Linked DNA regions of Homo sapiens. The main gene of each other region encodes a partner of the protein of the gene in region 2 in a complex. Each region holds a gene or a part of one and is shown on either strand. Other genes may lie near its edges. A codon is read from its position in the direction of its gene.

Evidence for each region.
Region 1: the proteins of UBE2D2 (region 2) and RNF25 are in contact, whole or in part, in a crystal structure (PDB 5D1K), measured with the Homo sapiens proteins. Residues at the interface, in NP_003330.1 of Homo sapiens: Leu3, Lys4, Arg5, His7, Lys8, Glu9, Leu10, Asn11, Asp12, Arg15, Ser22, Pro25, Gln34 (codon at 2,321), Thr36 (codon at 2,315), Val49 (codon at 2,197), Phe51 (codon at 2,191), Asp59 (codon at 2,167), Pro61 (codon at 2,161), Phe62 (codon at 2,158), Lys63 (codon at 2,155), Phe69 (codon at 2,051), Thr70 (codon at 2,048), Thr71 (codon at 2,045), Arg72 (codon at 2,042), Ser80 (codon at 2,018), Asn81 (codon at 2,015), Gly82 (codon at 2,012), Gln92 (codon at 1,982), Ser94 (codon at 1,976), Pro95 (codon at 1,973); in NP_071898.2 of Homo sapiens: Val136 (codon at 2,791), Ile137 (codon at 2,788), Cys138 (codon at 2,785), Leu139 (codon at 2,782), Tyr140 (codon at 2,779), Cys161 (codon at 2,617), Arg164 (codon at 2,608), Tyr165 (codon at 2,605), His168 (codon at 2,596), Pro199 (codon at 1,835), Val200 (codon at 1,832), Arg202 (codon at 1,826), Gln220 (codon at 1,772), Met222 (codon at 1,766), Glu223 (codon at 1,482), Leu224 (codon at 1,479), Tyr225 (codon at 1,476), Gln226 (codon at 1,473), Arg238 (codon at 1,437), Leu241 (codon at 1,428), Tyr242 (codon at 1,425), Arg244 (codon at 1,419), Gln245 (codon at 1,416), Arg248 (codon at 1,407), Gly249 (codon at 1,404), Gly250 (codon at 1,401), Ile251 (codon at 1,398), Ile252 (codon at 1,395), Leu254 (codon at 1,389).
Region 3: the proteins of UBE2D2 (region 2) and RNF125 are in contact, whole or in part, in a crystal structure (PDB 8GBQ), measured with the Homo sapiens proteins. Residues at the interface, in NP_003330.1 of Homo sapiens: Leu3, Lys4, Arg5, His7, Lys8, Glu9, Asn11, Pro61 (codon at 2,161), Phe62 (codon at 2,158), Lys63 (codon at 2,155), Ile88 (codon at 1,994), Gln92 (codon at 1,982), Ser94 (codon at 1,976), Pro95 (codon at 1,973), Ala96 (codon at 1,970), Leu97 (codon at 1,967), Thr98 (codon at 1,964); in NP_060301.2 of Homo sapiens: Ala38, Val39, Cys40, Leu41, Glu42, Cys60 (codon at 2,255), Thr63 (codon at 2,246), Ser64 (codon at 2,243), Asn67 (codon at 2,234), Pro73 (codon at 2,216), Tyr74 (codon at 2,213), Arg76 (codon at 2,207), Glu102 (codon at 2,129), Tyr122, Lys125, Tyr126.

Annotation. Positions count from the first base shown.
Region 1 is NC_000002.12:218,663,392-218,666,346, forward strand, and holds the end of RNF25 (E3 ubiquitin-protein ligase RNF25), read right to left. Parts: intron 2,840-2,955; coding exon 2,768-2,839; intron 2,669-2,767; coding exon 2,525-2,668; intron 1,857-2,524; coding exon 1,764-1,856; intron 1,483-1,763; coding exon 1,348-1,482; intron 1,145-1,347; coding exon 566-1,144; 3' UTR 501-565; downstream 1-500. UniProt on the Homo sapiens protein: E3 ubiquitin-protein ligase that plays a key role in the RNF14-RNF25 translation quality control pathway, a pathway that takes place when a ribosome has stalled during translation, and which promotes ubiquitination and degradation of translation factors on stalled ribosomes.
Region 2 is NC_000005.10:139,613,269-139,616,917, reverse strand, and holds part of UBE2D2 (ubiquitin-conjugating enzyme E2 D2), read right to left. Parts: intron 2,333-3,649; coding exon 2,301-2,332; intron 2,222-2,300; coding exon 2,144-2,221; intron 2,058-2,143; coding exon 1,952-2,057; intron 1-1,951.
Region 3 is NC_000018.10:32,035,735-32,039,383, reverse strand, and holds part of RNF125 (E3 ubiquitin-protein ligase RNF125), read right to left. Parts: intron 2,269-3,649; coding exon 2,115-2,268; intron 1-2,114. UniProt on the Homo sapiens protein: E3 ubiquitin-protein ligase that mediates ubiquitination and subsequent proteasomal degradation of target proteins, such as RIGI, MAVS/IPS1, IFIH1/MDA5, JAK1 and p53/TP53.

The DNA.
Region 1 (2,955 bases), on a different chromosome or scaffold from region 2:
CTGGGCTCAGCTCAGCTCTCCTCCTCTAGCTCAATAAACATCTGCCACACTACTCTGCTCTCTCATCTCCCTTCATCACTGGATTGGTACTTGAGTAAGACGGGCTGCAATCACAGGTGCCTACAGGGGTCAGTCAGGCAACCACATATACAAATGATGGGGCATAGCCTAAGATAAAGAGATGAGACACAAAACAGGAAACTAAATTCCTCTACCTAAAGGCATTCTATGTATATAAATAATGGACAGGCATGGGTGTGTACACAATGAGTTGTTAACGGTGGGTCCTAAGGACTCTGCTTACATGCTGACATCCCACTAGTTTTCCCTGAAACTCACTATACTAGCTGATGAGATGTCAGACCCTCTTTACCCAGCTCTTCGGAGAACAGACTTCAGAGCAAAGTTGGGGGCTGCTCTGCCACACCCCAATCTTATTAGGAATTGAGAAAAAGAGCCATTCCTCACAGGCTAGGCGCTGCTAAGCAAAGAAAGCCAAAGAAGGCCAAATATCTTTATTGCCTCCCTCCCATCCCCAATTCCCTGTTCCCCCCACCAAGTCCTGCTAGGAACCATCCTTAGATTCCAGGCCCAGGGACTCCCTCCGAGTACCAGGCCGGTATGCTCCCTGGCCCCGAGGCAGGCGAGGGTAGGAAGAACCGGGTGTCCGGCCTTTAGAGCGCTCCCAGCGAACACAGTCCCGAGTCCTGCGGGGTGGGGGCCCCTGCCAGCTGCCAGGCCCCTTCTCTTGTGGAGGACCTTCAACTCCTTGGCTATGGGGTTCTGGCTTTAGGTCCATGGGCTCCTTGAGGGGCCCCTCAGGAGGTGGCAGTTCCTGGGTGTCACGGGTACCTTTAGGGGCGTGGCACTCCCCTCCCTTTGGGTGCCTCCGTTCGGGCTGTCGCCAGGGACCTCGACTGGGCTTGGGGGGATCTAGCATAGCTTTCTGGGTTTCGCCCAACCTTTGCTGATTTGACCTGGTCCCTGGAATCTTCTCACATATGTGCTGGGTCGCCACAGGCAGAGGAGGTGGCAAAGTGGATTGGACGGCTGGTGAGGTGGATAGTTCTGCTGCAAGGGTGCTGGGTGGTTGGGATCCTTTGGAGACATCTACAGCTGACTCAGGTTCCGCAGGGGCAGGAGGCTAGAAATAAGTGACAAGATGCAGTGAGGGAGATGCAGTTCCTCAAGGTGGGGAACTACAGGCCCCTCTCCTACTATCTGGGCTGACCACGATCAGCCTATCATCTTCCTGGTTAGAACAAAGCTCACTCTGGGGCCATGGCTGATTGGGGTTTGTAGAAAGGTTGGTGGCATTACAGGACAACTGGGAAGCCCTTCCCTCACCTGCTGAAGGCTGATGAAGTATCGGTTTCGCTCAGCCTCAAGGTCAATGATTCCCCCCCGCTCCTGCTGCCTCTGGTAGAGCCGCTTGCGTTCTTCTTGCTGGCGCAAGCTCTCTGCACTGGGCTGGTACAGCTCCTGGAAGGAAGAATGGCAGAGAGGAAATAATGAACAGCAGAAGGCTGACTCAAACCTCTACTCCTCCCAGGCTGCCTCAGGAGATCTGCACTGGTTTTGCCCCTCAGGTCTGGGCTCCCAGAGTCTTAGGCTCCCGCCAGTGGGGGATGTGGCTTTGCAGAGAGGTCCTAGGCAGTTCAAGCCCAATTTCAGAGATCCCATTTGACACAGACAAGATGCCATTCCTTACTCTTTAGAAAATACCATTACTCCTGGCTCAGATTGGAAAAAAGTCTCCTTACCATGGGCTGTTGGGGTTCAGGGGCTGCTTTCAGTGAGGCAAGATCATACACGAGGGGCTCTCTGCACACTGGACACTGCACACCGACTGCCTTCTAAAAAAGAGAAAAATCATATGCCTGTGTCACAGCCCAGGATGCCCCCTGGTGCTGACCCATCAGCCAACCTAATCTGCAGAGGGCTGGGACTAAAGGGCACAGGGACACCGGTTCAGCAGTGAGTTGGGACAGAGCACGGGTTGTCTAACTAGAGATCTGGGAACCCCCCGAAACTGCATGCAATATGTAAGTGTATATAAGGATGCCCTGGCCAGGCACGGTGGCTCGCGCCTGTAATCCCAGCACTTTGGGAGGCCGAGGCGGGCGGGATCACTTGAGGTCATGAGTTTGAGACCAGCCTGGCCAACATGGTGAAACCCCGTCTCTACTGAAAATACAAAAATCAGCTGGGCGTGGTGGCTCGCACCTATAATCCCAGCTACTCGGGAGGCTGAGGCAGAAGGATTGCTTGAACCCAGGAGGCGGAGGTTGCAGTGAGCCAAGATTGTGCTACTGCACTCCAGCCTGGGTGGCAGAGTGAGACTCCATCTCAAAAAAAAAAAAAAAGGATGCCCTTTATTCTGGACAGAGGTAAGAGTTCATTAATCTCAAGGGTATCTATGACCCTGAAAAAGTGAAGAGCCACTGGAGTGGAGAGATGGAAAAGTTTGTGAAAGGCTGTGCCTAAGGGTGTCAGATGAGTGTGCAGGTGCAGTGAGGTCTACCTGTTTGGTTGTAGCATGCTGCCGTTCCTGTTCCTGCTCCTGTCCTTGTGCCTTCAGCTCTTGCTCCATGTGCTGGATGTACCGAGCAAGGCAGTGGCAGTGGAAGTAGTGGTAACAGGGTGTTTTGGTAAAGGCCTCCTTCTCCTAGAGGGAAGGCAGATGTAGGGCACTAAGTCAGAGCTCTCTCACAGCCCTCATCTGCTGGTCCCAAACAGAATGCCAGGTCCCAAGAGAGAAACCCACCTGGAAACCATAGAGGCAGATGACACACTGGCCATGAGGGATGTTGTTATCTGTGAGAATTTCCTTCCCTTTCTGAGGAGAGAAGACACTGATTAAACGGGGGTAGGGGGAAGAACGGTGAGCAAGGCCTGTCTACTACTCCTAGGAGTGACTGGCTAGACTTGGCTCCTAGCAGGCCAGTTTGTTAC
Region 2 (3,649 bases):
GAACCACTATGCCTGGCCAGGGTCAATACTCTTTTAAATGCATGTGCTGGAACCGATCTATTTTTTCCTCTACTGTAAGTAACCTCCAATTTTCAGAACTAAATCACAATGTCACAAATGTACTTGTATACAAAGTTTTTTCAGCATTTGGGATTGTTTTCTTAGTATAAATAAATGAAACTAGAATTATTGGGTGAATGGGCATGGATGATTAAGTCTCTTAACACATACTGGCAGACTGGGCTCTACAAATCTATACCTCTACTTGAAGAATATGAGTGTTCATTTCAATGTACCTCATTAGTGTTTTGTCTTCTTTTAAAAATATCTTTGTTAATTAAAAAGGTAAAAAATAGGAACGTAACATTCATTTATTTATTCTTTGGTTCCCCTGTGTCCATTCATCTATTGGGATCTGAATTTTTTTCTGATTTTTGTACTTCATATTTTAAACATATTAATCCATTACCATATTTGATTTTTCTCTTAAACAACTGATTTCATTTTCACAAAAGTACATCCAGTGAACTCTTTTATCACCTTTCAGAGTACAGCAGTGAGATCTGATAAATATTCTTGTTTTTGAGACGGAGTCTCGCTCTGTCCCCCAGGCTGGCCAGGCTGGAGTGCAGTGGCGCAATCTCAGCTCACTGCAACCTCCGCCTCCTGGGTTCAAGCGATTCTCCTGCCTCGGCCTCCCAAAGTGCTGGGATTACAGGCGTGAGCCACCGTGCCAGGCCATAAATACTTGTTTTTGTTTTCCTTTATAAATTCTAGATTATTTGGCTGGGCACGGTGGCTCATGCCTGTAATCCCAGCGCTTTGGGAGGCCGAGGCAGGTGGATCATAAGGTCAGGCGTTCGAGACCAGCCTGGCCAACATGGCGAAACCCAGTCTCTACTAAAAATACAAAAATTAGCTAGGCGTGGTGGCGGGTGCCTGTAATCCCAGCTACAAGGGAGGCTGAGGCAGGAGAATTGCTTGAACCCGGGAGGTGGAGGTTTCAATGAGCCAAGATTGCACCACTGCAGTCTAGCCTGGGCGACAGAGTGAGACTCCATCTCAAAAAAAAAAAAAAAAAAAAAAAATCTAGATTATTGTAACGCAACTGTGATTTCATCTGGGAATAATGTTGAAGGGTTGTACAATTTCAAATCAACACATTAAGACAACAACTACATCACTCAGTTCATTGATACAGAAACCTAAAGACAAGAGCTGGTAAAATATTTACCTATATTTTGTTCTTCAAGAACCTAACGTCTATGTTTACAGCATAGGCATTTGTCTAAAGGGCTGGTCTATTTCCTATTCTGCAATAGTATCTATCTTTTTCCATTCATGAATCTCAAGGTTGGAAGAGATGTTAATTGTGCTCTACTTTATGCTCTAAAAAAACATTCATACCAGTGTCCATCTTCTTTTTTTTTTTTGAGACAGAGTCTCGCTCTGTTGCCCAGGCTGGAGTGCAGTGGCACAATCTCTGCTCACTGAAACCTCTGCCTCCCGGGTTCACACCATTCTCCTGCCTCAGCCTCCCGAGTAGCTGGGACTACAGGCACCTGCCACCATGCCCAGCTAATTTTTTTGTATTTTTAGTAGAGACGGGGTTTCACCATGTTAGCCAGGATGGTCTCGATCTGCTGACCTTGTGATCTGCCCGCCTCGGCCTCCCAAAGTGCTGAGATTACAGGCATGAGCCACGGCACCAGGCCCAGTGTTCATCTTCTAACCTATGCTAGAGTAGCACAACTGACAGACTAGTCACTACACCAAGGAATACTTTTGCTTGAAAAATCCAACTCGTTTTCAGTTCTCAAGGTCCATTTCAGATTAAGAAGAATTGCTATCTCTTCTTAAAAGAAACATAAGTAATCTTTTCAAAAATAAATAACTCTAAAAAGACAAAAGACACGGTTGCTTTATCTTGATATCAAATACCCACTGTTACCTTTTGAAATAGTTAGTGCTGGAGACCACTGTGATCGTAGAATATCAAGACAAATGCTGCCATTACTGTTAATATTTGGATGATAAATTCTTGTTGTAAATGCAACCTACAGAAAGAAAGGAAACTTTCTGTAAACTAGTTTATTAGTATTATAGAAAGTACATTAAAAACTGCCACATTCCAATTAATTACCTTAGGTGGTTTGAAGGGGTAATCTGTTGGGAAATGAATTGTCAAGAAAAATACTCCACCCTGATAGGGACTGTCATTCTGTTGATAACAAGAAAAGTGGGATTAAAATGAGTAAATTACATAAACTGTTTATTCTGAAATTAATCTGAATACTTACTGGCCCCATTATTGTAGCTTGCCAATGGAACACTGAAAAATAACAAGAAAAAAGTCACCATGTAACAATATCTACATTGTATCTACGCCATAGTAACATATCATTCCCCTTCTAATCCAAATTCATTTATAAATAATATGATAATGAGTATGAGCAAGATGAGGAACATAAATTAACAGTCTAAAGAAACAAGAAAAATGACTAGAATGGCCTAGAACACTGATAAGGTGCTCAATGAAAAATATTTAGAGCCAGGTGTGGTGGCTCACACCTGTAATCCCAACACTTCCAGAAGCTGAGGTGAGAGGACTGCTTGAGCCTGAGAAGTGGAGGCTGCAATGAGCCATGACTGCGCCACTGCAAGACTCTCTCAAAAACAAAAACAAAAAAAACCGAAAGTATTTGGGCTAAAACTTCTTGAAACTTCATGTCAGGTAGACAAACTTCTTGACAAGGCTTACAGTTCTACTTTTAAACAGTTATTTCTTTACCTCACAGGGTAAATCATTTCTTCAAAACAATTACATATAATACACTTTTTTTTTTTTTTTTTTTTGAGACAGAGTCTCACTCTATCGCCCAGGCTGGAGTGCGCTGGCGCAATTTCGGCTCATTGCAACCCCCGCCTCCCGGGTTCAAGCAATTCTCCTGCCTCAGCCTCCCAAGTAGCTGGGACTACAGGCAAGTGCCACCACACCTGGCTAATTTTTGTATTTTTAGTAGAGACAAGGTTTTGCCACGTTTGGCCAGGTCTCAAACTCCTGACCTCAGATGATCCACCCACCTCAGCCTCCCAAAGCTGGAATTACAGGCATGACTCCTTTTATAATGCTGGTATACGGGGGACAAAACAGTAAAGTCAAGGTAGATAATACTCAAATTAAGAAAGACTGGTTTTAACAAGGAGAAAAAATTTCTAAAAACTCTTGTGTAGGTCTGTACATTACTGGCCCTCATTAAAGAAAGAAAAACATCTCTCCTAATGTAAAGGATAAGTTAAAGAGGAAAAAAGAGAAAAAAGGAGTAAAATTTAAGAAGAAAATATTAGCTGAAAGCCCAAGGTTGATTACAAGCTCCAGGGATACTTCTAATAAGTTATAAACTTGTTCAATAAATAAATATCTTCCAAATGCAGAAAATGATGCTTGTTCCATGTTCTCATGCTACTAAGTGCATCATGAGAGATCAAAAGCCAGAGTTTTTACTTATAATTAAGCTACTACTTAGCACACTTACCATTCATACTATGATCTGAGCAACCTAAGGGAAGTTGTCACTGGGGTTATATTTGAACAACCCAAACCAGGTAACTCTTGTCACAAGGTAGAAGAAACATGAAGACTAAGAAG
Region 3 (3,649 bases), on a different chromosome or scaffold from region 2:
TGCTATGTTGCCCAAGCTGGAGTGCAGTGGCACGATCATAGTTTACTGCAGCCTTGATCTCCTGGGCTCAAGCGCTCTTCCTACTCAGCCTCTGGAGTATCTAGGACTACAGGCGTATACCACTATGCCCCAGCTAATTTTTTTGATTTTTAGTAGAGACAAGGTCTCTTCCCAGGTTGGTCTTGAACTCCTGAGCTCAAGCAATCCTCCCGCCTCGGGCTCCCAAAGTGCTGGGATTACAGGCATGAGCCACTGCGCCTGGCCTCCAAACCATTTTCTATGTGTATGTTAGAGTGATATCTTAAAGATACAATCCTGGGCTGGGCATGGTGGCTCATGCCTGTAATCCCAGCACTTTGGGAGTCCGAGGCGGGCAGATCGCCTGAGGTCAGGAGTTCAAGACCAGACTGGCCAACATGGTGAAACTGTGTCTCTACTGAAAATACAAAAGTTAGACAGGCGTGGTGTTGGGCCCCTGTAATCCCAGCTACTCGGGAGGCTGAGGCATGAAAATCGCTTAAACCCAGAAGGTGGAGGCTGCAGTGAGCTGAGATCGCACCACTGCACACCAGCCTGGGCAACAGAGTGCGACTCTGTCTCAAATAAAAATAAAAATAAAGATATAAGCCCGATCTTGGCACTCCAAAACTTACTCTCTTTCTCTGGCTTACTATTGCATTTAAGATAAAATCTAGAATCTTCTACATAACCTTCAAGACCTCACATGATCTGGGGAAGCTGATATAGTACCCAAGTTGAAAACTGCAACAGGCAAGGTGTGCTTGATAGAGACAAATACTGCAAAGTCCAGATCAATACAGGTGGAAATATGTCACTGGGTTTGATAATAAAGCTATTCATTAGTGGTCTGCAACAGAGTAGCAGAACTGGAGGACATATCATAGAGGATCACTGGAGTAATGGGAAGAAGGGAAAATGGAGGTGGTCAATGAAAGCATTTGTTTGACAAATTACGGGTGATGGTAGAAGTTCAGGGTTTTCTGCAGATGATATATGTACATATATGAAATTGGAGGCTGGGTGAGATGGCTCACGCCTGTAATCCCAGCACTTTGGAGGCCAAGGTGGGCAGATCACTTGAAGCCAGGAGTTTGAGAACAGCCTGGCCAACATAGCAAAACCCTCTCTCTACTAAAAAGACAAAAAATTAGCCAGACATTGTGGCACATGCCTGTAGTCCCAGCTACTCGGGAAGCTGAGGCATTAGAATCACTTGAACCTGAGAGGCGGAGCTTGCAGTGGGCCGAGATGGCGCCACTACACTGCAGCCTGGGCGACAGAGCAAGACTCTGTCTCAAAAAAAAAAAAAAAAAAAAAAATGGCACGGACCCAAAGAGTGAGTGGTAGCAAGGTTTCTTGTGAAGAGCAAAAGGACAAAGCTCCCACAACATGGAAGGGGACCCAAGCCGGTTGTCACTGCTAGCTGGGGTGGCCAGCTTTTATTCCCTTATCGTCCCCGCCCATGTTCCGTTTCTGTCCTATCAGAGTGCAGTTTTTCCAATCCTCCCTGCGATTGGCTACTTTCAGAATCCTGCTGATTGGTGCGTTTTACAGAGTGCTGATTGGTGCACTTTACAGAGCACTGATTGATGCGTTTTACAGAGCACTGATTGGTGCATTTTACAGAGCGCTAATTGGTGTGTTTTACAATCCTCTTGTAAGACAGGAAGGTTTCCCAAGTCCCCACTCTACCCGGGAAGTCCAGCTGGCCTCACATCTCACCAGCACTTTGGGAGGCCGAGGCAGGCGGGTAATGAGGTCAGGAGATTGAGACCATCCTGGCTAACATAGTGAAACCGTGTCTCTACTAAAAATACAAAAAATTAGCCAGGCGTGATGGCAGGTGCCTGTAGACCCAGCTACTCGAGAAGCTGCGGGCAGGAGAATCACTTGAACCTGGGAGGCGGAGGTTGCAGTAAGCCGAGATCGCACCACTGCACTCCAACCTGGGTGAAAGAGCGAGAACCTGTCTCAAAAAAAAAAAAAAAAAAAAAAAAAGGTGCGTACCATGGGGTCAGAAGCAGAGGTGAAATGATAACTTTCGCAGGGACTTAAGCTGGTAACCATGAAAATAGGTGGGGTCACATACATACCAGGGTGTCACACTCAGCGCAGTTCTTATACTCTGATTTCATTCTTTTGGCTACATCAGTTGCTGGAACTCCTTCTGAAGGAAGATATGCCCGGCAATAAGGACAGGTCCACTTGTTGTTCTTTAGACTGGTAGCAATACAGGAACGGCAGAATCTACCCCAAACAGACCAAAAATACATCACTTTCCTTGAAAGCTATAAGGAGCCACCACCATGTATTCATTTGTGTAAACTGTAATTTAATGACACCTCGTACCCCATGAGCCATACTACCAAATTACAGGTCCACTTGCACCCTGCACTTCCCGAGAATTGCTTACCTTCCCAGCAAGACTTCTTTAGAATCACACATTCTTACCACATGCACTTTCACACATTTCAAGAAAAGTAAGAATTCAAAGTGGGTGAAATAGCTTTCCTATAGGCTAAGTTTAAACGATACTTTAAAGAATGTCTAAATTGGATTTTACCTCAAATTTCTTGAGAAAATATGTCTTTCTTCTGTGGGGTTTTGTGTGTCACATAAGAAAATAGCAGGAAGTCAAGGAAGTAAAAATACCAGACACATTATAATTCCCTATAAAACCATTTTCTCCTTCCCTCCCTTCCTCCCTCCCCTCCCCTCTCCCCTCCCTCCCTCCCCTCTCCCCTCCCTCCTTCCCTCCCTCCCTTCTTCCTTCCTTCCTTTCCTTCCTTCCTTCCTTCCTTCCTTTCTGGTCAAGAAATATGTTCTCTGGTTTATTTAAAGGTGCTCATTATGAAATCTTAACATAATCAACATTTCCAGAAAATTCTGACCTATTTATAGGAGTTGTTGAAGACTCCATAAACATAGAAATAAAAATGAGCATTTGGGTAATTTATACACATGAGCATGACCTGATGCCTCTTAAACTACTCAGCACATAATATCTATTTGGGAGTATTAATACATGTCCAAAGGTAGGCTTTTTAAATTTTAAGTATACTGTACATACTGGAAAGTTCTTATAAGCATATAGTTGAATGAAATTTCAAAACTGAACACATCCATATAACCAGTACCTATAACAAAAACAGCGTGGCCAGCCCCTAAAATTTCCCCTCTTGTTTCCTTCTCTTTTTTTTTTTTTTTTGAGATGGAGTCTTGCTCTTGTCACCCAGGCTGGAGTGCAATGACACGATCTCAGCTCACTGCAGCCTCCACCTCCTGGGTTCAAGCAATTCTCCTGACTCAGCCTCCCAAGTAGCTGGGATTACTGGCACCCACCACCACGCCTGGCCAATTTTTTGTGTTTTTAGTAGAGACAGGGTTTCACCATGTTGGTCAGGCTGGTCTCGAACTCCTGACCTCAGGTGATCCACCTGCCTCAGCCTCCCAAAGTGCTGGGATTACAGGCGTGAGCCACTGTGCCCGGCCTCCAGACACAATTCTATCCCCTCCAAAGTAATCACTGACTTTTTAAAATGTATTTTAACATATGAAAATTATACTTTTCAAACATTGTACCAGCCTATAGACTGCAGCTTTCTCATCCCTGCTTACCATCCTTGGT